Homo sapiens: one gene and its partners. The protein of the gene in region 1 purifies or fractionates together with the protein of each later gene. This does not show direct contact. Each region holds a gene or a part of one and is shown in the gene's direction. Other genes may lie near its edges. The genes, in order: TST, LYPLAL1 and FAHD2A.

Region 1 (8,597 bases):
GCGTCGCGCGTCGCGCCCCAGCTTCGGCAGGTACCAGGAGGCGTCCAGCAGCTGCAGAGGCTGCCCAGCGCGCGGGGCCCGCAGCGCCTCCGCCACCCATTGCGCCGACACCAGCGCGCGGCAGAGCTGCGGCGAAGCCATGGCGGCGACACTCGGGCTGCGGGCCTGGGCGACAGGGAGGATGTCAGAAGGGAAGCAGGGAGAGGCCGCTGTTGGGGCTAGGGCTGGGGCTGGAGCATGGGCGAGGGCCGGCGGGGGAGGTGCGGCCCGTGCAGGGCAGAGTCCAGGGAACGCAGAAACCAGTGGTGGTGAACCCGGGCACAAAGGTGGGTAGCCAGGGGCCTCCCTCTGCCAGGCCTCATATAAACACAAGCTCCGAGTGACCCAATGACCATGACCTCCCGGAGAGCCCCAGGCCACGCCCCTCACCTCCACTTGCTGGGCAGGAGGGTGGGTGGAGGTATCCTAGGGCAAGGCCCTGCTGGCTTCAAGGCACAAACAGGGGCAAAGTCTCCACCCCTCCCTAAGATGCAGCTCGGCTTTATTTGCAACCAAGTCCCAGACGGAAGTCATTCATTCACTCATCAAGCATTTATATTGGCGACCTAATAGGAACAGTAGCTGGAATTTACTGAGTCCTTGCTGGGTACCACTGAATCCTAACAATATCCTAGAACAATGCCTGACACAGTAGACTCTCCAGTATGTGTTGAATGAGTGATCTTAAGAGGCCTGGTATATTATTGTCACCGTTTCAAGGAGGACACTCAGGCTCACAGAAGTGCACTAACCTGGCCTGGTGCGGTGGCTCACGCTTGTAATCCCAGCACTTTGGGAGGCCCAGGCAGGTGGATCACCTGAGGTCAGAAGTTTGAAACCAGTCTGGCCAACATGGTGAAACCCCGTCTCTACCAAAAATACAAAAAATTAGCCGGGCTTAGTGGAGGGCACCTGTAATCCCAGCTACTCGGGAGGCTGAGGCAGGAGAACTGCTTGAACCCAGGAGGCGGAGGTTGCAGTGAGCCGAGATCGTGCCATTGCAATCCAGCCTGGGGAACAAGAGCAAAACTCTGTCTCAAAAACAAAAAACAAACAAGAAAAAGTGCACTAGCCTGACCCGGCGGTGCCAGGCTTCTCACTAGGCAGTCAGTCTGGCACCAGAATCCGGACTTCTCAGACACACACTCTGTGCAGGCTCCAGGAGTCTGGCGAGGCCAGGTTTTGCCTGTCCAGCCTGGGCTCTCTCTGGCCCTTCTAGCAGCAGCAACAGTGACTTCGCACCTCCCTCCCTCTCCTCTCTATCTTTCCTGCATACCAGAGACAGTGCACCAGCTCGCCAGCCCACTATGCCAGGCCAGCCCACAGCCTTCCTGGGTGTAAACTTCCCAAACACTTTAAGCCCTTTGTGCTGGGAAGCCACCGTTGTGCAGGTGAGAGGAAAGGGCCCCTTCTGCCAGGCAGAGGCTGAGCCCCCACCAGGGCACATGGCTGGGTGTGTGGAGTATGGGCTGCAGATCAGCCCTCACTTATCCCCTGTGTGAGGCCCAACCTTGACACCCACTGCATGCAGTCCTGCCAGCGAAATGAAGGGGGCAGGTAGAGAACAACATCTGTGGACCGAGTGCCTCTGTGGGCCAGGTCACATGCTAGGCACCGCAGCCTTGGGCGGGTATTAGGACGCCTGCTTTATGAATGAGGCCACTGGCAATTAGAAGAATAAGTGCCTTGCCCGTGGTCACAGGAGGCAGCCTCAGGATTTGCAGCCAGAATTTGACCCCTCAGGCTGGACTTCCCCTGCCCCAGGTGCCATGATGACCAGGGCCTAATGAGTTCTAGGGTGACACCCTGTGCCCACCCCCACAGTCTGGCCGCAGCTGGCTTTTAGGAACCTACTTCACCCATGCGGTCAGGCCTTGTGCCGGACACCGAGGCACTCTTGCCTTTGCCAAGCCCTGGGGGGAAACGTCAGGCTGCAGGCAAGAGAGAGTGAAATTGAGGATAGTTTAGAATTCAGTGTTGAGCACAGAGGGCCCCTATGTTTGCCTGGGGTGGCAGCAGAAGAGGTGGGAAGGCTTCCTGGAGTAGGAGGAAGTCCAGACTAATCTGACTTTTCCAGGGGCCCAGGAAGCCTCAGCACGGTCTTTAGGGTAGGGAGGCTGCCAAGGGGTGTTTGGCTAAGGGGTGATCCCCATTATCTGCGTTACAGCACAGCTAGGGGGCGCTGTGCTGGCAGATGCTGCAGGTTCCTTCCTGAGGAACCCTATTGTGGGAACCACAGCAGCCCCTGTGCACCCCCAAACACTGTCCCCTATTCTTGAGGATCCTTGTTTCCCTCACCCAATCATCCATTTACAGTAGAAAGAGCCCTGGTTTAGGAGCCAGAGAGCCCCCCAAATCAATGTAAACCCCACTCCACTGCTTAACTGGTTGTGTGATGTGGGTGTGTAGGGTCTCTGGGTGGTTTCTGTTCCTTATAATGGAGCTTCTCACCTCCACCTCTTAGAGCCAAGATTAAACAATAAATGTAGAGGGGCAACCACCATGCATTACATCTGGCTGGTTTTAATAATCATTAAAAACGGTTTAGGTCGGGCGTGGTGGCTCACACCTGCAATCCCAGCACTTCGGGAGGCCAAGGCGGGCGGATAACGAGGTCAAGAGTTCAAGACCAGCCTGACTAACATGGTGAAACCTCATCTCTACTAAAAATACAAAAATTAGCTGGGCATGGTGGCATGAGCCTGTAGTCCCAGCTACCCGGGAGGCTGAGGCAGGAGAATCGCTTGAACCTGGGAGGCAGAGGTTACAGTGAGCCGAGATCGCGCCACTGCACTCCAGCCTGGGCAACAGAGTGAGACTCCATCTCAAAATAATAATAATAATAATAATATTGCATTATTTCTTCCATTACTCTCATTGGTGGCCCTGGAACTGCCAGCAGCAAATCTAAAATCTTAGAATTTCAGGGCTTGGTGGGACTTCAGAGATCTGAGGTCACCCTGCCCCAGTCTCCCTGCTTGATTGGCACTTCTCACAAAGGTCTGTGGGCCATAAAGGAGGGTGTGAAGGCAGGCTGTGGGTGTCAGGGAGGGGTAGAAACCAGGTGCCTGTGTGATTCAGAAGCCGGGATCACTGTAGGTGAGGGTGCCCTGGGAGTGGAGGACCCCAGGACGTAACCGCCCCAGGCTCATGTCAGAAGGATACACAGCTGCACTGAAGCAAGCGTGAGCCGCAGGCTGGATCCAGGGTACCCCTTGAGGAGCAGAGCTTGGGAGCTCCTCTTGGACCTCCCCAGCCTGGTCCCTCCTGCCCACCCCCTCCCCCAACCACCAGACACTAGGCTTTGAGGATTGCTGTGAGCATTTTAGAACAAAACCTTTTTTTAAAAAGAGGGATGAGGCCAGGGATGGTGGCTCATGCCTGTAATCTCAGCACTTTGGGAGGCTGAGATGGGCAGATCACTTGAGCCCAGGAGTTCAAGACCAGCCTGGACAACATGGTGAAACCCCATCTCTACCAAAAATTTAAAAATTAGCCGGGAATGGTGGCACATGCCTGTGGTCCCACCTACTTGGGAGGCTAAGGTGGGAGGATCGCTTGAGCCTGGGAGGCGGAGGTTGCAGTGAGCTGAGATGGCGCCACTGCACTCCAGTCTGGGCCACAGAACCACAGCCTGTCTCAAAAAACAAAACAAAACAAAAGGTCAGGGTTGGGAAACAGGGAAAGCTTCCAGGCTGGCCTCTGCAAAAGCTAGGGAGGGGCAATGGTGTCCCCCAGTTTGCAAGAGCCCATGGCGAGCTTTTCAGGAATTTTGCCAACTGGTTGTTAAATACAGCTATTATTAAAAATTGAATTACATCAACTTATGATTAAACGGGCTAAGTTCAAAACAGGCAATTTTTTAAAAAGCATGAACCTTCAGGGAAGAGCCAGGTAAACAAAGGCAGCTGGTACCACGTGGGCTTCAGACCAGGGATCAGGCCCGGCCTCAACTCTGGGTGTGTCCTCCAGCAACTCGCTCTGCCGCTCTCTCCTGTCTTAGTAAGTTTCTGGCCTACTCCTCAGGGTTATTGTGGGAATTAAGTCACACCACGGGAGTACCCAGCAAAGTGCCACACCAAGCAGGGCTGGACAATGTTAGTTCCTTTCACTCACTAACAAGTTATTGGCTAGTGTCTCTTCCTGGGGCCTCTGGGTCAGCGGGGTCTCGTCTCCCTGTCCTCCTCTCTCTCCCCCGCCCTCTCTGGTGCCACCAGGTCACCCACTTCCACCCAAGGCTCCCCACCCGCCACTCGCCACGACCCCACCCGGCAGGCCGCCCCAAGCGGACAGTCACCCTTAGTGCCAACGTAGCGGCGCGCCTTCTCTCCTAGACTAAGCCCCCTCTTCCGCCCAGGTCCCGCGCGGGAGCCCCGCGCCGAGCACCCCCAAAGAGCCACTCCCTCCCCCTCCAGAAAGGCAAGCCGCCACGCCGCGGCAGTTACCCGGGTCTCGGACTCCCGGCTTCCTGGCTCCGCCATGGCCCCCGCGGCGCGGCGCCCCCTCCCCGCGCCCGCAGCTGTCCCCTCCTCCCGCCACCAACCTGCAGCGGACCAAAGGGAGGAGACTCCGGCACAGCCCACCGCCGCGGCCACTCGGAGCCGCTGCTGCCCGCGCCTTCCACTGGCCGGGCCGTGGGGGTACGCCCGCTCCGCCCAGCCCAGGCCCGCGCGGCCCCCGCGCCACCCGGCGTCCCCCTCAGACCCCCGCGGGTCCCGGAGGCCCCGCGCGCGAGGTTGGCAGGTGCCGGGCGCGAAGCGGCCGCGCGGGGGAGGCGCGGGATGGCGGCGGGCGGCGCAGGGTCCCCCTCTGGCGGTGGCGCGATGGTGCGCGCCGCCTGGGGAGCTGCGGCCGGGGGTTTGAACCGGCCAACTTCTCCAGCCGGCCGGGGCGAGCGCCAGCGCGGCGTCCGGGGCGAGTGAGTGCGGGGCGGGGGCAGCGGCCGGGCGCCTGGGCCGCCGGTCGGGCCACCTGCTGCCCGGGGAAGGATAGCGTTGCGAGAGTGGGACGGGGTGCCCCGGGAACCCCTGATCCACCTAGGGCAGAGGGCAGCGAGCTACGGGCCGGACTCGGGCACTCTGGAGGCGGGCGAGCTCGGGCTGCCTGGGGAGGCCGCAGGCGATGGCGTGTGCGCGGCTCGCGGAGCTTCCTAGCCGTGCGCCCACCCCCTCTGCCTTGGAAGGAAAGGGGATTCTAAGCCCAAGATGCCATCGCCCCCCATCCCGGGCATGCTTTCATTGCTCTTTCCTGGCGGGATCGAGTACTGTAACTTCTAGGAGCCAGATCCCCGCCCCAGGAAGCGCCCCTACTTGGAGTCCTCGGAAACTCTTGCCCCACCCGCTTCTGCGCTGGGCCCCCGGGCCGGCTGGGAGGGGCGGGGCCGGCTTTCCAGAGGGAATCTGCAAACTTATCCCGCTGCACGCCCCAGCCTCGCTGGCTTGCTGTAAACAAGGAACCCGGGGGAGTGCGGAGGGAGAAAGAGCTTCTCCCAGGCCTCACCCTACTGCACACACCGACTTCCTTCCTCACGCCTGTCTCTCTTTCCTGGTTCCCACCCGTGCCAGGTGACACGCAGAGCTGAAGCCATGGTTCATCAGGTGCTCTACCGGGCGCTGGTCTCCACCAAGTGGCTGGCGGAGTCCATCAGGACTGGCAAGCTGGGGCCCGGCCTGCGGGTGCTGGACGCGTCCTGGTACTCACCAGGCACCCGAGAGGCCCGCAAGGAGTACCTCGAGCGCCACGTACCCGGCGCCTCTTTCTTTGACATAGAAGAGTGCCGGGACACGGCGTCGCCCTACGAGATGATGCTGCCCAGCGAGGCTGGCTTCGCCGAGTATGTGGGCCGCCTGGGCATCAGCAACCACACGCACGTGGTGGTGTATGATGGTGAACACCTGGGCAGCTTCTATGCTCCCCGGGTCTGGTGGATGTTCCGTGTGTTTGGCCACCGCACCGTATCAGTGCTCAATGGTGGCTTCCGGAACTGGCTGAAGGAGGGCCACCCGGTGACATCCGAGCCCTCACGCCCAGAACCGGCCGTCTTCAAAGCCACACTGGACCGCTCCCTGCTCAAGACCTACGAGCAGGTGCTGGAGAACCTTGAATCTAAGAGGTTCCAGCTGGTGGATTCAAGGTCTCAAGGGCGGTTCCTGGGCACCGAGCCGGAGCCGGATGCAGTAGGTAGGTGTCCCAGTGCTGGGTGGTCCCTGGGGAGTATTGCCCCATGGAAGGATAGGGAGTAAGGATGACTGGGACCCTCTCCAGGGTCCGTCCCATGCCTTCAATCCTCCCATGTAGGCCTCAGTCTTTCCATCGATAAAACCAGAAAGTGGAGACAAACCTAAAGGCTTTTTCAGCTTGGATGCACAAGGACCCAAGAATGTGTCCTCATAGCCATGTGCTAAGAAGCCACCTAGCATCTGTGTGAGCAGAAGTCACTGGTGACATGTCCACCACCTCCACTCCCAGGCACCAGCTGCCCCACATGTACTAGGATATACCTAAGGGTGTCATGCCCCTGAGCCAGCGTTTGCATTGCTGTACAGAAACCTCCCACGGACACATCCAGCTTCTCCAGGCCTCTCTCGTCCCGCAGAAACCCTTATAGACATCAACAGTGTCCCTCCCCGCAGGATCCCCCTCTCCCCAAATCTAGCTCTCCTGGGGCCCCTGCCTGCTGTTTGCAAAGGTTCCATAACCTTTCCAGGCAGCTGCAGCCCGTCGGCAGAGTTGTAACAGCAGCTGCCATTTCATGCCAGACACTTGGCACCGCATTATCTCAGCGAACAAAGCTCAATGCCCCTGTTTTGGCAGCGGGGGGTGGGGGGACTGAGATGCCAGGACATAAAGTGGTGGAAGGCAGGATTCGAATCCAATGCTGCCTTGTTTCAAACCAGGGCTATAAACCAGGACGCACCCAATGCTGCCCTACCCCTACTTCCCAGGGCCAGGAGGGAGTCCCCTCTGCTAGTTGCCCCAGGAAGGCGACTCAGAAGTTCCCCTCCTGTGGAAGGGAAGGCCAGGTGGATTGGATACTGCTTGAGGGTTGGGGAGAGCCTCAGGAGAGGAAATGCTGAGTTCTAGAACCTCCTAGCCAGACAGAACCTCGGAGGTCTTCCCTTTTCTAGAGGCAGGACTGCCGTCTCGCTGCCATCACTCCTGCTGAGTGCCCTCCAGTCCCTGCCTGGCCATTTCCAGGAGCAGGGCCCTCTCTTGTCTCTGGGCACCTCCTTGGTGGCTCTTTCCTCAGTCAGAGCTCCTTCTCTACAGAATCTAACTCGTGTGCAACATTTTGCCTGACTTGTTGAAAAACATCTCTTCCTGTCTGTACCTCCTACAGAGAGAATGCTGGGAAAACTGTTCTGCACACTCTTAGAGCTGGAGGGCCTGAACGGTGACCTCACCTGACAGAGGGGAGACTGAGGTGCACAGAGGCAGGGGCCAAGGCCGCATAGCTAGTTAGTGACAGAGCCAGGACAGCAGGGTCTCTGCCCTTTCCAGCGCAGCTTTTTCCAGGCCCCATATTTTTCTTGCCTGCTTGCTCTCTGAAGGTCTGGAGTTGAAGATTCAAGTTCATTTGGCACCTCCCAGAGAATCCTGGCTGGGAACGCCTGCAGCCCTCTCCTGGCCTTGGTTCAAGACGCCTCTTCTCCTTGGGATTTAAGCTGTCATGGGGGAGGATCAGTGGAATTGGTTCTCTTGCTGCTTCCCAGCCTGCCCTGAAGCAACCTAAGAAATAAGTGGAAGGGACAGCTTGGAGGTGCCAGGCCCAATGTCCTCACCCATTTTACAGATGAGGAAACTGAGGCTCAGAGGAGGAGAATGGCCTGCAGTGGGTAATGCCTCCTGAAGGCCCGGGATGCTGAAGTTCCTCCTCTGTAATTGTGTTCACACCTCCTTCAGTTTCCCTCAGGAGCATCAGGGAACATGGATTCTCATTTCAGCTCAGCCACTCCTCCTTGGAGTGACCTCAGTCCAGTTGCTTGGCCTCTCTGGGTTTCCTTATCATAAAATGAGAAGAGTCACGCCAGCCCTACCCACATGAGTATGCATTTGTTTAAATGTAGCAGTGGCGGCCGGGCGTGGTGGCTCACGCCTGTAATCCCAGCACCTTGGGAGACCAAGGTGGGCGGATCATGAGCTCGGGAGTTCGAGACCAGCCTGACCAACATGGTGAAACCCCGTCGCTACTAAAATGAAAAAAAAATTAGCCAGGCGTTGGTGGTACGTGCCTGTAATCCTAGCTACTTGGGAGGCTGAGGCAGGAGAATCGCTTGAACCCGGGAGGTGGAGGTTGCAGTGAGCCAAGATCGCGCCACTGCACTCCAGCCTGGGCAACAGAACAAGACTCTGTCTCAAAAAAAAAAAAAAAAAAAAAAAAAAGTAGCAGTGGCTGGAAAGGGATTTCAAGAAGGGTAAGGAACGATACAAATCCTGGAGGGTGTGGCACTTCCCCCCCAACCCCCTCCTCCAAGAGGCTTTGCTGGCCTCCCATACAAGATATTTTGGGGACACAAAGGCACATGAGGCTCTGCCAAGTTTATGGTTCCCAGCGTGGT
Region 2 (8,615 bases), on another chromosome or scaffold:
ATGGCCTGTCTAATTTACATAGCTTGTCATCCCCGAGGCTGGAACAGGAACTCCTATCATTTCATTACTTCAACATTTTTTATATCTACCTATCTAATCTTCTCTTAAATGAATGTAGCAAAATACAGTAGATATTCTGACTGCATTCATAAGGAAATTACTCTTTTGGCTTTTATTTCTTTTCTTTGTAATAGACGTATGCAATGCAATGACTTCCCCTCATCTCATGGTAGGATTTGAACTTCCCTGCCCTCAAGGGCCCAAAACCTGATTAGGGGTTGCTGTTGATTCTTGCCCTGGATTTCAAAAGCCTGAAAATTTGTTATAGAAGAAAAAAGTAATAGGTTCTAGAGTACAGAGACAAATATGAAGATTGCAGGAGGGATTCCTCAGACTCATATAAGCACTGAGTGGAAGTTGAATAAGAAGTGTTTCCAGAGGGTAACTTAGGAATTTGAGAACTGGCCATAAGAGGTGTCCAAATGGAAGAAGACCCATTTCCCAGAAAAGAGGAGACAAATGGCAATGCAAAGAACATTGTTCTGGTGTCCAAGCATAAACACTGACCCTGTAGCCTGCACCCAAGGGAGGAAAGTTCACTGTCCTCCTCTAGGGCCTACATACTGCTTTGGTGTGTATCATGTTGACTGTTAATAATCCAGCAGAGTAATCACTATCCATTCTCCAAGGCTGCGTTTGGTCTGTGTTTGAGGAGCTCATGTATTCCCCTACCCCTACTGCCAATGCCATCTCAGTCCATCTCACAATGCCCCACGTGACCCATCTGCTCTAAAAAGAGAATGAGACCATGCACATCTAGTAGTAAGGTAAAGTAGAGGAATGACCCATATCTGTATCTGGAAAGACTGGACTGAAAAAGATTAAGGTCCCCAGAACTGAGGCAATGATTATGTTAAAGTTTATAATCTCATTTATAAAAAGTATAGTTTTGCTGTTTTGTAAGAATTCAGGACCTTTAAGTTTGTTTCTAGTTTTTCTTTCATGAATGGACAGGGGGAATGCATAAAAGAAATCATTTTATTTATCTATGACAAAATGTTAAATTACCTAAAGCTGAAGCTGAAGCATTTTGTGCAATGTGTATATATTGTTTATATATATATGTGTGTGTGTGTGTGTGTGTGTGTGTGTGTGTGTGTTTCTCTCTCTCTGAATGATGCAACAGATGAAAACTAACCAATAGAGAGGATATGGTTTGATGCTTAAGAATGAGCCAAACAACAAACGGGAAACTGTGTACTGTCTGCGTGACAAATGCAACTTCATTTAACTGTTATCATTTGAAAATACCAAGTATACTAATCTTGTTCATTGTTTTTGTTTCTTTTTTGAGACAGAGTCTTGCTCTGTCACCCAGGCTGGAGTTCAGTGGTGAGATCTTGGCTCACTGCAACCTCTGCCTCGGGGTTCAATCAATTATTGTGTCTCAGCCACCGGAGTAGCTGGGATTACAGGCATGCGCCATGATGCTCGGCTAAGTTTTTTTGTATTTTTAGTACAGATGGGGTTTCGCCATGTTGGCCAGGCTGGTCTTAAACTCCTGGCCTGAAGTGAACCGCCTGCCTTGGCCTCCCAAAGTGCTGGGATTACAGTAAGCCACTGCACCCAGGCAAAATATACTAATCTTAATGGCTGAACTTTCAATTGCTTTTCTGTTTTGAAAACTAAGTGTGGCCTAAAGCATTTCTCAACACACTGAAGAACAGTAAACTAAACTCCGACTTTGCCATTTATATCGTTAGATCCTAATTGATATTGAAACCCTGCAAAACAGGAGAACTTTTTCTTTTTCTTTTATTTTGTTTACTTGCTTTTTTAAGTTTAGAACTGAAGTTACCAAAAGGAGGTGCATATAGATTGGCAGAAAGCAAATGAGTAGCAACAAAAAATAATTAGGAGCTATATAAAGAGTAAAAGAATGTATGAATAGGAATCTTCCAGTGATAATATTCCCCCACCTTCAATAGGGCAAAAGATCCACCACAAAAGCAAATAGTCATCTTGAAACTTAATTACATTTCAAAGTAGTACAGTAACATGAAAGGAACAAAACATTTTTGTTCAACAGTTTGCCTACCAGATGGGATCTCTAAATATAGGTAATCTAAAACCTTTGCTTGTCCTATAAACAAATACAGATGAAAGGAATAGCAACAATAGCTAAGCATTTAAATCACTGGAAATAAAATAGCACTTTGGTTAAGTGTGGAAGAATCTGGCTCATTCTAATAATGAATCTGGGAAGGCTGGAGTTCTCAGTGAAATTCAGAATACAGAAGGTTGCTTCTGGTATTTACCACCTGCTTATCTACCTGTTTAAACTGGTAGAATAGTTGGAAGAACAAATCAGGAACTAATAGCAGTAGACTTGGGAAAAACTAAAGAAGCACAGGAACACCTAATAAATAGAGACTCTAAAGGGCCACAATACAAATTCCAGACTTTTGTTTTTGAAATAAGAGTTGCGACATGCCCTTGCTTCATTTCTGTGCACTCATGTGTAAATGTGGGTAATAGTTAAGAACCTATGCTCTGGAGTCAAGCCCAGCATGTGAATCCAGGTTCTACAATTGACTGGCACTATGACTTTGAGCCAGGTTCCTTACCTCTTTGAGCCTCATTGACAAAAGCAGATAGTAATAGTACTGAGTTTTATTGGAATTAATTTATGACAGTTTTTGGCACCTACTGAATCCCATGAATATTAGTTGCTTATTATTATTAATAATCATTACTCTTAAATAATTATATTCTGATTTTTTGCTGTCTCAAAAGCGTGGGGTGGTGTACAGTAAGATTTTCAGGTAGTAAATGGAGTTCTAAGAGTAGAACTTAAAGCCTTCCCTGTATATCTCCAAGTGGTCTTTCCTAGTAGCACTGCCCTCTTCTCACCTGGCTAGGGAAGGTTATCTAGAACTCATACGGGGAAGGCAGGTCAAAAGACAGAGGTTTTTCTTTTAAGAATTGGCTATCAGAGCTCAGCCTACCCTAGTTTGTCCTCCTCAGGGACTTCACTTATACAACTCTCTGCTGCAGATCTATGGGCTTTGGAGAAATGACTCAGAATTTCTTTTTGATTTGGTTAACTAATGGCATGTAGGACCATTCTTGTTGATGGTATTGTTATTAATATAACACCATGATAGCTTAGAGCTGATTTTGGCAACTAATGTTGATAGTAAACAGTTTACTTACCTGTAAGTAGGGTGATTACCTGGAACAAATAAAAGGTAAGTTGTAATTGCTAAAATGTAATGCAGACTACAATGAATGGAAGGCCAGTGTTTAATGGTACTTAAGCTTTTACTGGGTTATTTTGTTGAATTTTACATGAGGCAAGAGCAACCTGCTGGGGCCACTGCCTTCAGTATTAAAAGATACCTATGTTTTGGACTTTATACAGGAAATAATTCCATTTCTTAGTATTTTTAAAATTATGGTAAAATACACATAAAATTTACTAGGTGTATAGTTCACTGGCAGTTATTAACACTGTTGTACAACCATCATCACTGTCCATTTTTAAAAATGTTTCACTATCTAAGCAGAAACTCTTGTACTCATTAAACAACAACCTCCCAACTCCCTCTTCCCTTAGTCCCTGGTAACCTCTAATTTCACTTTCTGTCCCTATGCATTTGCCAATTCTAGATATCTCATGTAAGTGGAATCATACAATTATTTGTCCTTTTGTGTCTGGCTTCACTCGGCATAATGTTTTCAAGGTTCATCCATGTTGTAGCATGTATCCGAATCACATTCTTTTTACAGGCTGAATAATATTCCATTCCAATATGTACATAGCACATTTGGTTTATCTCTCCATCTGTAGATGAACATTTGAGTTGTTTCCACTTTTTGGTACTTGTGAATAATGCTGCTACAGAACACTGAAGTACAAGTATTTGTTTGAGTCCCTGCTTTCATCTCTTTTGGGTATATACCTAGAAGTGGAACTGCTAGTACCTATGCTAAGTCAATGTTTAACTTGTTGAGGAGCCACCAAATTATTTCTATTGCCGCAACATCATTTTACATTCTGATCAGCTATGCACAAGGTTTCTAATTTCTACACATCTTTACTAATACTTATTTTCTGTTTTTTTGATAAGAGCCATTCTAATGGGTATATAAAGCAGAATCTCATTAAATTAGATTTGCTTTGTAAACTATTTATTAAAAATAAGAGACACGAAGAGAACTTATTATTATATGCTTCGCTTACCCTGTATATCAAGAGCTGCAAACATCCTGTGCGAGTCCCAAAGTGAAAGGTAAAATATGGTTCTATTAAATTTTAAACATAGTAACACGAATATTTCTCCAAATAAGGTAATCTTGAGTTTTGGGATTGCATTTAAAATTCCTACAGCAAATGCTCAGGATATAAACATATCCATTAGTCATTACAGAAGTCCACACGAGGCTGACACACGTAGAATACCATTATTAGCAAAACTAAACTCAGTACAGTTACAACTGCCTCAAACTTGACCCCAAAGTATTGAAAGCTCCTCAGAGAGCGGGCCAGCAGCGCTGCGCATGCGCGCTCCCGGGCGTGCTCCCGCGCGTGCCTGCGTATTTGCGTGCGCGGCCCCGCGCGGCAACGCAGGGGCGGAACCGCATGACTGGCAGTGGCATCAGCGATGGCGGCTGCGTCGGGGTCGGTTCTGCAGCGCTGTATCGTGTCGCCGGCAGGGAGGCATAGCGCCTCTCTGATCTTCCTGCATGGCTCAGGTGGATTTCAATTTTACGTCCTGGTTTTCTACAGCTCGGGAAACATCCTCCCCTCGGTTACCCCAGTATTGCCCAAGTGGAGGTGTCGCCGGGCCCAAATAGGGCCCAGTGGGTGGCTCCCCCGTCGCCAGCCCCGGCTGTAGATGCACGGGCAGCGCCACCTGCCCCCAGCCTCCCCCGTTAGTCTTCCTCTTTCTATCGGGCGGTCACTGGTCCACCACCCTCGCTTTGGGGCCTTGTGTCCCGCCGCTCAGCCAGCCCTCCATCCCCACAACACACCTCCCCATTCCTCGCCCCAAGTTTAAACAGAGCAAGTTAGTAAGGTAAGTCTTCTGCTAGAGGGAAATTATTTAGTGTTTTTCATTATCAGCTACTAGTGATTTTTCAGTCGTAATTGCCCATTGCTTTTTCCAGGCTCCCATACTAATGTAGACAATTGAGATTCACAGTTAACTTAGATACTGTTTACAGATTATCTCTTTTCTGTAAGCCACTGTGCCATGGCTGGAGTGCTTTCTCTCACTTTCCTTTTTGCTGCTTCTCTTTCCTTCCTTTCCCTTTCCCGCCTGTGTCATTAAACTTCCAAGATAGACTACAGGGGCAGGACCCCCAGGGACAGGCATCTTCCACTACCTGCCCTTAGTAACGTGTGCTTAATGCTGTATCGTTACTTAACACTCATCTGTAATCACTTTTGTCTGTCTTCCCCACTGGATTGTGAACTTCCCACTGGATTATGAGAGTAAGGGCCCTTGTGTCAACCTTTGCACCCCCAGTGCTTGGCCCAGGGTAAGCTCTCAGGAAATGTTTTTTAAAGAAATGAGATGCAGCCGGTGTCCTCAGGGGGCCTACCTAAAGTTAAAAACAAAAACAATCCAATTAGTTTGAGTCAGCAGTGCATGGAAGATCACAAGACGGTGCATGGTTTCCTGCCAAGTGAATTGTAAGAGAAAAAAATGTGGTTAGGCATTATTAAGGCATTTGGAAGATGAAAAGCTTGTCAGACTTTTCGAAGAAAGTGGTCTTTGAGCCGAGACGGGTAGGCTTAAATGGGACGGTGATTGGAAGGGAATTGGAAAGGTACTGGGCAGAGACCTGGAAAAGGGCAATTGTGGGAGGTATTCTCTTTATTTTGAAAATGAGGCCAGACAGGTTCAGCAGCTTGGCCAAGGTCTCTTAGCTGTTACTGTGAGTAGTGGCGGATTTGGGATTAGAACCCAAAGCTCTCCGACCTCAAACTCAGGGCTTTGGTGGGGTAAGGTGAAAAAGTTTGAACTAGGATATATTGTTTTGGAGATAGGGAAGAAGAGGTCCAATAGTGTTTAAAGGGAAAGACGGCATATATTTAGAAGGTGACGTGTGTAAGATGACAGCGGTACTTAATAACTAGGAGACTGGTAGTACTATTTAGGGCTCCAAGAGTGTTCATTTATAAGTACCCAGAAATTCCCCAACACTGTACCCTTTCTCATAATCAATTCTCATTATCTTTAGGAAGAACTCCTAGACTATGTTCTTTTTTCCCCTGGACCTCTTTGCTTAAAATAATTATCCTTTTTTTGAATTTCAGATTACATTTTTATAACCTGTAAGGGTATGTCTCTAAAATTCAGAGTCATGTATGTATGTATTTTTTCCTTTGTACTTTGAACCAAGAATTTATTCAAAGAATTCTGCCAAGTATGCGAGTATAATGTGATTCCTATATATTTAAATCTCCACTGAAGTAAATAAAACCTTATTGGGAGTAGGTCTTTATCATCTTTATCGTTGGGAGTAGGTCTTTATCATCCAGTAGGTCTTTAGCAGCTAGTGATTTTACATTCAACTTTAATGTATGTGGTTATGTTATAGGAGATGTTTGGTTTCTGCTTAACTAGAATATGGGCAAACCAATTCTGTTTTATCACACTCAGTTTTGCCATACTGTTAACCAGTTTTAACACTTTTACTATGGAATAAAGTACTAGCTTTTTAAAAAGTGGACATTGGGAATGGATAGATGTTGTTTTGCAGCTGCATTCTTACTCTTCGAGGCTGAAAAAATGTTGTTAAAGACAGATTTTGTGTTTTCAAATAAAAAACCTTAAAAGCTTGAGATTTTCTTCTAGGAGATAGCAGCCATAGAAGAACATATGGGAGTGTAAATTATATGTAGCCAACTTAATTTGAGCCTTTTCTATTAATAAAGTACTAAAGACGGACCTTCTTTTAAGATGATAAAAATAAATGATAGGTTAATGAGTTTTGTTCAGTCTCTCAGATCAGATTAATTCACTCTTATTTGCTCCCATAGGACACTGGTTCTTCTTTCAGTGGTAGTCATCATACTTGTAATTATGTAATGTAATGTCTGTATTCCACACTAAGCTAGTAGGTCCACAAAGCCCAAACCATGTGTCTTGTTTATGGCTTTCTTCTTGTGTGGTAAGGCTCAGCAAGTTGACTGAGTAGCTTCTTGGTAAAGTCACCAGTAAGCTCAGGCTCTATGTCGCTCAATGTAATGGACATTTTCAGTCGTCCTCTTACGTGAACTGTCATCTGCATTCAGCTTTCTTCTCAAAAAACTCTCCTGGTTCTTTTTCTGTCTTGATTTGCTCCTTCTGGTTTCTTTTGCAGACTCATCCTCCTCTACCTGGCCATTAATGATGGGGTTTCTCTAAATTTGGTCCAAGGTCTTTTCACTCTACATTTTTCTCCCTAGGCTAATCACAGAAGTCTCCTAGAGATACCCATTTGTGTCACTGGTGTATAGGTAAAAATAGAACCTTTGAATTTCTGTGGAGATTCATAGATTCTATTTTTGAGCTCTAGACAAGTTCATCTAACTGCCTGATAGACATTCATTCATGAATCCATTCATTCAAGAAATATATCACAGCCTCCATGTGTAAGGCACTGTTCTGTGCTCTGATCATACAGCAATGAAAAAAACAAATCACTGCTCTCATGGAGCTTATGTTCTAATGAAGTAAATAAATACTATAGTAGAAGGTAGTAAGTTTTATGGAAACAAGGAAAGCAGGATAAGGGGATTCTTCCATGGATGAGAAGTTGGAACAGTGTTACAATTTTAAATAAAGTAGTCAGGTTATGCCTCACTGCAAAGATGACAGAAGATGAAACTTCACAGCTAGACTTAGACTTGGCTTTAAAGCCAAGTCGGAGGCTCCAGGGTAGGGTCCTTGACATGTTCAAGGAACAGCAGTAAGGCTAGTGTGTCTGGAGTGAGAAGAATAGGAAGGGATATCCAAGAGGGTACTGGCATCCAGGTAGTGTAGGGCAGGGGTTGGCAAACTTTCTGCAAAAAGTCAGGTAAGCATTTTAGCTTTTGTGGGCCATGTAAGGTCTCTTCCCCATAGTTTTCCCTTCTCTCTCTTTTTGAGAAAGGAGTCTTTAATAATGTAAAACTCATTCTTAGCTTATCCTCCTTAAGGACCCTAGGCTGGATTTTGTCCTCCCCTCTAGCTGTCCATAGTTGCTCAATCAACCCATGGTATAAGACCTTGTATGCATTACAAAGAGGCACCTCACACTCAACCTGTGTATGCCTGTTGCTTATGTTTCCTGTCTAGGCAGGTGTCTAGTATTGTTCACCCAGTTACTCCGGCCAAAAGCCTGTTAGTCATCCATGAGACCTTTTACTGTTGACCCTTTATAACAAATCCGTTGCCAATCTCTATTAATTTTACCACCTAAATTTCTCTAGTATCTGTTTCTATCTACATCATCGCTGTAGTCTAAGCATGAACAGTAGTTTCCTAACTGATCTCTGTACATCTACTTTTGCTCTCTTTCAATTCTGTCTTGACACAGCTTCCAGATTGATCCTTTAGAATCATGCCAACCTTTCTGTC
Region 3 (5,872 bases), on another chromosome or scaffold:
CTAACTGGGACCCCCCCAGGTGTCGGTGTATTCAGGAAACCTCCTGTCTTTCTCAAGGTAGGTTAGCGAAAAGCAAAGAGCAAGGGCCCCAAAGGCCTGGCAGGCTTGCCTCAGACTTGAGAAGTACAGGCTTGTGTATGTGTGTCTGACGGAAGGGCTGACACTGTCATGGCCTGCTCTGTTGCAGAAGGGGGATGAAGTCCAGTGTGAGATTGAAGAACTAGGTGTCATCATCAACAAGGTGGTGTGATGGCTCCTGCACAGGCCCTGCACATAGGATGAGGGCATCTGCTCCCACTCAGCCTAGCCCAGGGAAAGGCCCAGTGACAGGTGTGGACAGGTGCCAGCCCTGCAAGCCGCCTCTTCTCGGTAGAAGGGAGAAGGACAGAGCTCTCTTCAATAAATTCGTCAGGTCAAAGCAGCAGCTTTGCTTCTGCTGTTTGTCTTCTTTTGGGCTTTGTTTCATGGGACAAGTTGGGGCATTTTGTGGGACTGGGGAAGAAGAGAGCAAATACACACACATATGCCAAAAAGATGCTGCTGGGCTGGGGAAAAGACAATTCGTGTCGTCCCCTTGTTTATCACATCAAAGAAGGGAAAAAGCAAGAGATGGCAAGGGACAATCAAGCCTCAATGATTATATTTATAGCTAAGGGTTTGCAGCCTCCTCTCCATCTTCTGGCTCTAGGACACAGCTGTGTTCTGGGGCTCAGAAGTCTCAGCACAGGCTCCTTCTCACAGTTCTAGCTACAAGTGAACTGCCGGATGAACTGTTCTAGTTTTTCCTGATTGTCCAGGCTGGCAAAAGTAGGGGACAGGTGGAGCCTGGGGCCTGCAGGGCTCGGCGTCTGCTGCAGAACCTGGGCCATGGAAGATGGGCCGTGAGTGCACTCACCACAGGGACTGTGTCCACATGGCCCAGGGGCCAGGCCTGTCCCCCAGAAACCTGCCTTGAGACCTCTGACCCCTTAGGCCTCAGTGTTTGAGTGCAAATGCTGCCTCAAAGCAGCCCCAATACCCCACCTAGAAGGATGAGCCAGTGATTTGGGAGACCAAGAGGCAGGAAACCATCCCACCTTCTCCAACCCATCACCACGTCTATTGCTGGAAGACACCAAGTAAATCCCAGGGTCTTAATGAGGCACCATCAGGCCAGCCCTGTGGGGTGATGGGAACATAGCTGGGTTTCCCTGAGCCACTCTATTGGGGTGGGAGCAGGGGGACAGAAGATGGTGACACTGGCTCCTCTCACCCCTAGGTCTCTGAAGGTCCAGATAGCACTGATGGCAAGCTTTGGGTCTGCACACTCTGGAAAGAAGAGAGAAGTGAAGGCTCTAGGTAGGGAGGACAGGGAGACACTGGGCACAGGCTTCTCTCCTCTTGTTTAAAGAAGCCCAGGGAGGGATAGATCTCCGACTGGACAGAAGACTACTCTGCAGCCCGCCTTCCTAGAGTTGGGTTGTCACTGTCCGGCAGGGGGCAGCAGCCACCAGCAAACACCACTGCCTGCAGGAGCCTGGGCTGACTGGTTGGGACTCACCAAAGATCCCTTCTTCCTGGGCGGTGGCCTGCAGGAACTGGAACAGCTGTTGGAGAGGAGAAGAAAAAGAAGACATCAAAAAGAAAATCTAGTGCTGGGTGGATATAGAGTATGAAGATGTGGAGCTGGGAAAACAGAGGATGTGGTGGGATGGGGAAGGAAAGGTTGTGGAAGGCCTGCACCCCGTCTCAGTTCCTCCACTGCTTCGTCCCAGATTCTGTTTTTGTTTTCCTGAATCAGACTTAGTCTCCCTCCATTCTCCCGTCCCCTGTGTGCCCCCATCCTGGTCCTGCCTCACTGGACAGCCTCTCCGCGGCCTTCCTCCTCCCTGCTCCAGAATTCTACTTGGTGCCCCCCAACCCCACTCGACTCATTGTCCACCTGGCCTCTGAGGCCAGGCACCCTCATTCCCCTCTCCCACCCACCCCACCCAAGGAAGCCCAGCACAGACCATCTCATCTCACTCCACCATCACTTCTTTGCCAAATGCATTTCCAAACACCCTCATGAGCTTTGCTGATCTCTTTGCCATCTCTCCCTGCCCCACTCCGATGGCTCCTCCTGCCTGGTGAAGACTGCCCTGGGTATCCCAGAACTGAACCTGCAGCAGCCAGCACAGCTGACCTTGGGGCGATAAGCAGCCAGGGAAAGGCTTTCTTAAAAAAAAACAAAAAACAAAACCAATAACTCAGTAAGCAGATTAAACAAAGGTAGAGACGGAGCCCTCCACCCCTCTCACACACTCATCCTCACACCCAGCTATACCACACCCCACAAATGTTGCTTATGTTTCCTTGGTCATTCTGTCCATCCTCCTGTCTGTCCAAAGCCAAGGACACTGCTCTACTCTAAATTTTTTGTCCCGAAGCCCCCAAATACTGCAACCCTGACCCAATGCACGAAGCCACCCCAAAATACAGCAGAGGACACCAGGACTTTCATTTTCCCTCAGTATGGCCCATCCTTTGGGTATGCCAACTCCATGTCCACCAAGCACTGCATGTAGGACAGGGCACAGTTTGGAGGCCTTGGTCCAGCCACTGCCCCAGACCCACCTTGGCTCTCTCCTCACTAACACCCGAGAAGCCCAGACTTCCCAGTGTTTAGCAACAGATTAAACTCTAAGCCAACAACAACAGAACAGGGTGGAGTGAGTGGAAAGCAAATGAAATGTTAAAAAAAAAAAAAAAGCAATACTTGCATTCTCATTAGTAGGAACATGTGAGATGAAGCATGTTATGTTATTAGGCATTCTCTTGATTCGGTAAACACAAGCTGAATAAATTTATAAATATCAGCATTAAGCGAGATTTAACGGGGAGCTGTTTATCTTCTGCCTGTCAGGCAGGCGGCAACACTCTCCATGTATCACTCGCCAGCCGTGCAGTCCTCACTCTCTTGCCCAGGTAAGCTGGGGAAGAGCCTGCTGCCGCCCAGCTCTGGTTGTGGAAGGGCTGGCACCAAGGAGCTGCGAGCTTACCTCAACTCATCTCACCTCACCATGCCGGCTGCGAGGCGGCCCGTGCAGTCCGTGCGCAGGAGGTCACACTCCCATGCTGCATCCCAGCCCCTCCAGAAGCAGAGCATGACCTGGGTGACTTTGAGGATGCTATTTAACCTCTCTAAGCTAAAGCTCCTCGACTGCAGCATCAACAGATCAGTGCCGACCTGTTAAGGCCGTCGAGAGCATCAAATGCTACTGTTCAGCAGGTGCCTGACACATAGTAGGTCCACAAGCAAATGATTTTCCTGCTTGCATCATTTCTAGCACAGAGCTGGAGGAAATGGCGAGGTGCAGGTGGCCGCTGGGCCCTGCTGTTCTACATGGGAGCAAGACAGCTGCTAGGTGAAGGGGAATGACCAGGCAGCCACAGGGAGGACATGTGGCCTCAGGAAGCCTGGGTGTGTATCCTGGTTCTGCTAGGAACACGTGTGGGGCTTTGTGTGGGTGACTCTCTGGCTCCCCAAGCCTCCCTTTCCTACTGTTATATCCTTAAAGTGCCTCTGAGGCCAAAGCCTTTGTGGCAATTGTCAAATGAGTCCATATGCAGTGAGTACCGTGTTGAGGGAGGACAAGGTCACCAAGAGCTGAGAATGTTTCTCCGACTGATGAGACCTAGATATTGGGTACATGGAGGTCCCCGGTCCCTTTGTGATTCCTGCAGCCTGTTGCCTCCTTGCCTGGACCCCGCCTCAGCTCAGAAAGCCAATTCCCTAGATTCCAAAGGCCTTCCCAGACCAATTAGCATGTCCTGCAGCTGTCAGCTCCCTGTGCCTAGCCTGGACCTCAGCTCATGTCTAGCACCCAGTCTCCCAACCCCACACATATTCACAAATAAAAGAAAATAACAAATGACATGAATTCTTCACTCCTGGTCTGGCTTGCTGTGTGTAAACTGCTATGACAATACAAGACGCAGAGGCGGGTACCCAATAAAAGCTGTTGAAAATGTGACTGACACCGAGTTTCAGCTATCCAGGAAGGCACGGATCCTTACAAGGTCCAAGCAGAGTCCTCGAGAATAGTTGAGAATTCTTGGGTTCCATATGAACTAGGAGATACCCACACAAAGGCTTGGATTTCCCAATACATAACTACCCCTGAACACTCCTTCTTTCCCTCGTCTCTCTGCTGAGACCTCTAGACCCTAAGGATCCACCCAGGACAACCTCTCCAAAGGTACCCTGATATGCTTTTCTTCCAGGCAGCATTTCCACAGAGCTGTGGGTGAAAGTCACAGGATGAAAATGTGCCATGGGACTGTATCTCCCACCAACACACTGCAGGCAAGGGGCACACAGAGTGCCCCCTCTGCCCATCCCAGGAATGGCCATCTAAGAATGATGCAATCTTTTCTAAAAAGAAAGTAAATAAAGGCAGGTGCCATATAAGAAGACCTTGGGGGACTATAGGGATGTTCCTTAATGTCTCAGAACATCTGCCTCCATCAATGAAATGAAGGATTCAAAGCAGCTCATCCCTGAGTTGACCTTAATGCTGAATCCTAAACATCACCCTTAGGATGCTATCTGGCTAGGCAGGGAATGAAGGATCTGGGAGCTGAGTTGCAGGAAGCTGCAGCAGCTTCCCATTTACAGATCCTCTAGTGCCAGTTTTTCAGGCTTCCTGACTAAGAGAAGCAGCCAGGCAAATTCCACCATTCAGCTACATTTACAGGAAGCTGGCTATTTGGGAGGCTCTCTACCAGAGGCTTTGGGAAAAAAAATGCAGAATTAATGTAAAGATCACATATTTACCTATGAGAGAAAAGATATCCAAGGATGCCCTTCGGCCTCATTTGATCTAAAACTAGGCCTGGAGCTACCTAATTGTCAAGTCAGTTCAGGCTTCTATAACAAAAATACTATAGACTGGGTGGCTTAAACAACAAACGTCTATTTCACATGCTGCTGAAGGGAACAACCATGGTCAGGAGCATGATGAGGGCCCTCTTCCTGGCTTGGAGGTGGCCATCTTCTTGCTGTGTCATCACATGGCAGAGAGAGAGACAGAGAAAGAATGAGAATGAGAGGAAGCAAGCAGTTTCATATTTTATCTTATAAGGGCACTAATCCCATCATGAGGGCTCCATCCCCATGACCCAATAGCCTCCCAAAGGCCCCATCTCCAAATACCACCCCACTGGTAGTTAGGGTTTCAACATACATTTGGGAGTATACAAATATGCAGTCCACAAAACAAATACCCCTAAGTTGTCTGCATATGTATGCTTGTTCTGGTGCTGCTTTGAGTATCTCAGACGATAGAATCGAGTGTAGATCAAACTTCTCTAGGCCTCAATAGGGTGAATCTAAAGATTGGGTCACAATAATGGCAATAAGCCACAATTCACTGGATTAATCTCACCTACTCCTTCAGGGGCCTATCCACATTCAAAGTACCACAAGTACCTGTAGAAGTCTCTGAGCAGTATCACAAAGACTGACATAGATACAGGCAAAATAGAAAATGGATAGATGGTAGTATGGGGTTGGGGGTGGTTGTGTGTGTGTGTGTGTGTGTAAGGAAAGAGGATGTCTTGTACTTGGGATACATGGGGATATATTGTTTTTGAGGCTGTTTGGTGGCAATACTTGCCCTGAGCTCAGGAAACAGGCCAGAGAGATATATCTGTTCCCTACTTAGAAGAGAGCACTGATGCATGAAGGTTGGGAGGAGGCCAGAGAATAGTGTATTGAAAGAAGAGAATGTGACCAAGGCCCCAACATTAAAAATGAACCTTGAATTGGAGATGGGGAATGAAGAAAAAGTCAGAGAAGAGGGCATACGTGGAGTAATCTGAAAGACAGGAAGAGCCACAGGTGTGCACA

Evidence for each region.
Region 2: the proteins of TST (region 1) and LYPLAL1 fractionate together in Homo sapiens (co-fractionation; 2 studies listed by BioGRID). This does not show direct contact.
Region 3: the proteins of TST (region 1) and FAHD2A fractionate together in Homo sapiens (co-fractionation; 2 studies listed by BioGRID). This does not show direct contact.

Annotation. Positions count from the first base shown.
Region 1 is NC_000022.11:37,015,760-37,024,356, reverse strand, and holds the start of TST (thiosulfate sulfurtransferase), read left to right. Parts: upstream 1-4,909; 5' UTR 4,910-4,957; intron 4,958-5,603; 5' UTR 5,604-5,624; coding exon 5,625-6,219; intron 6,220-8,597. Other genes in the region: MPST (3-mercaptopyruvate sulfurtransferase), read right to left, coding at 1-165, 4,485-4,520.
Region 2 is NC_000001.11:219,169,224-219,177,838, forward strand, and holds the start of LYPLAL1 (lysophospholipase-like protein 1), read left to right. Parts: upstream 1-4,654; 5' UTR 4,655-4,667; coding exon 4,668-4,758; exon of another isoform or gene 4,759-5,081; intron 5,082-5,737; exon of another isoform or gene 5,738-5,797; intron 5,798-8,615.
Region 3 is NC_000002.12:95,412,708-95,418,579, forward strand, and holds the end of FAHD2A (oxaloacetate tautomerase FAHD2A, mitochondrial), read left to right. Parts: coding exon 1-57; intron 58-187; coding exon 188-250; 3' UTR 251-1,258; coding exon of another isoform or gene 1,259-1,338; 3' UTR 1,339-1,476; coding exon of another isoform or gene 1,477-1,525; 3' UTR 1,526-1,574; coding exon of another isoform or gene 1,575-1,632; 3' UTR 1,633-3,909; downstream 3,910-5,872. UniProt on the Homo sapiens protein: Tautomerase that converts enol-oxaloacetate, a strong inhibitor of succinate dehydrogenase, to the physiological keto form of oxaloacetate. It is thereby required to maximize aerobic respiration efficiency by preventing succinate dehydrogenase inhibition.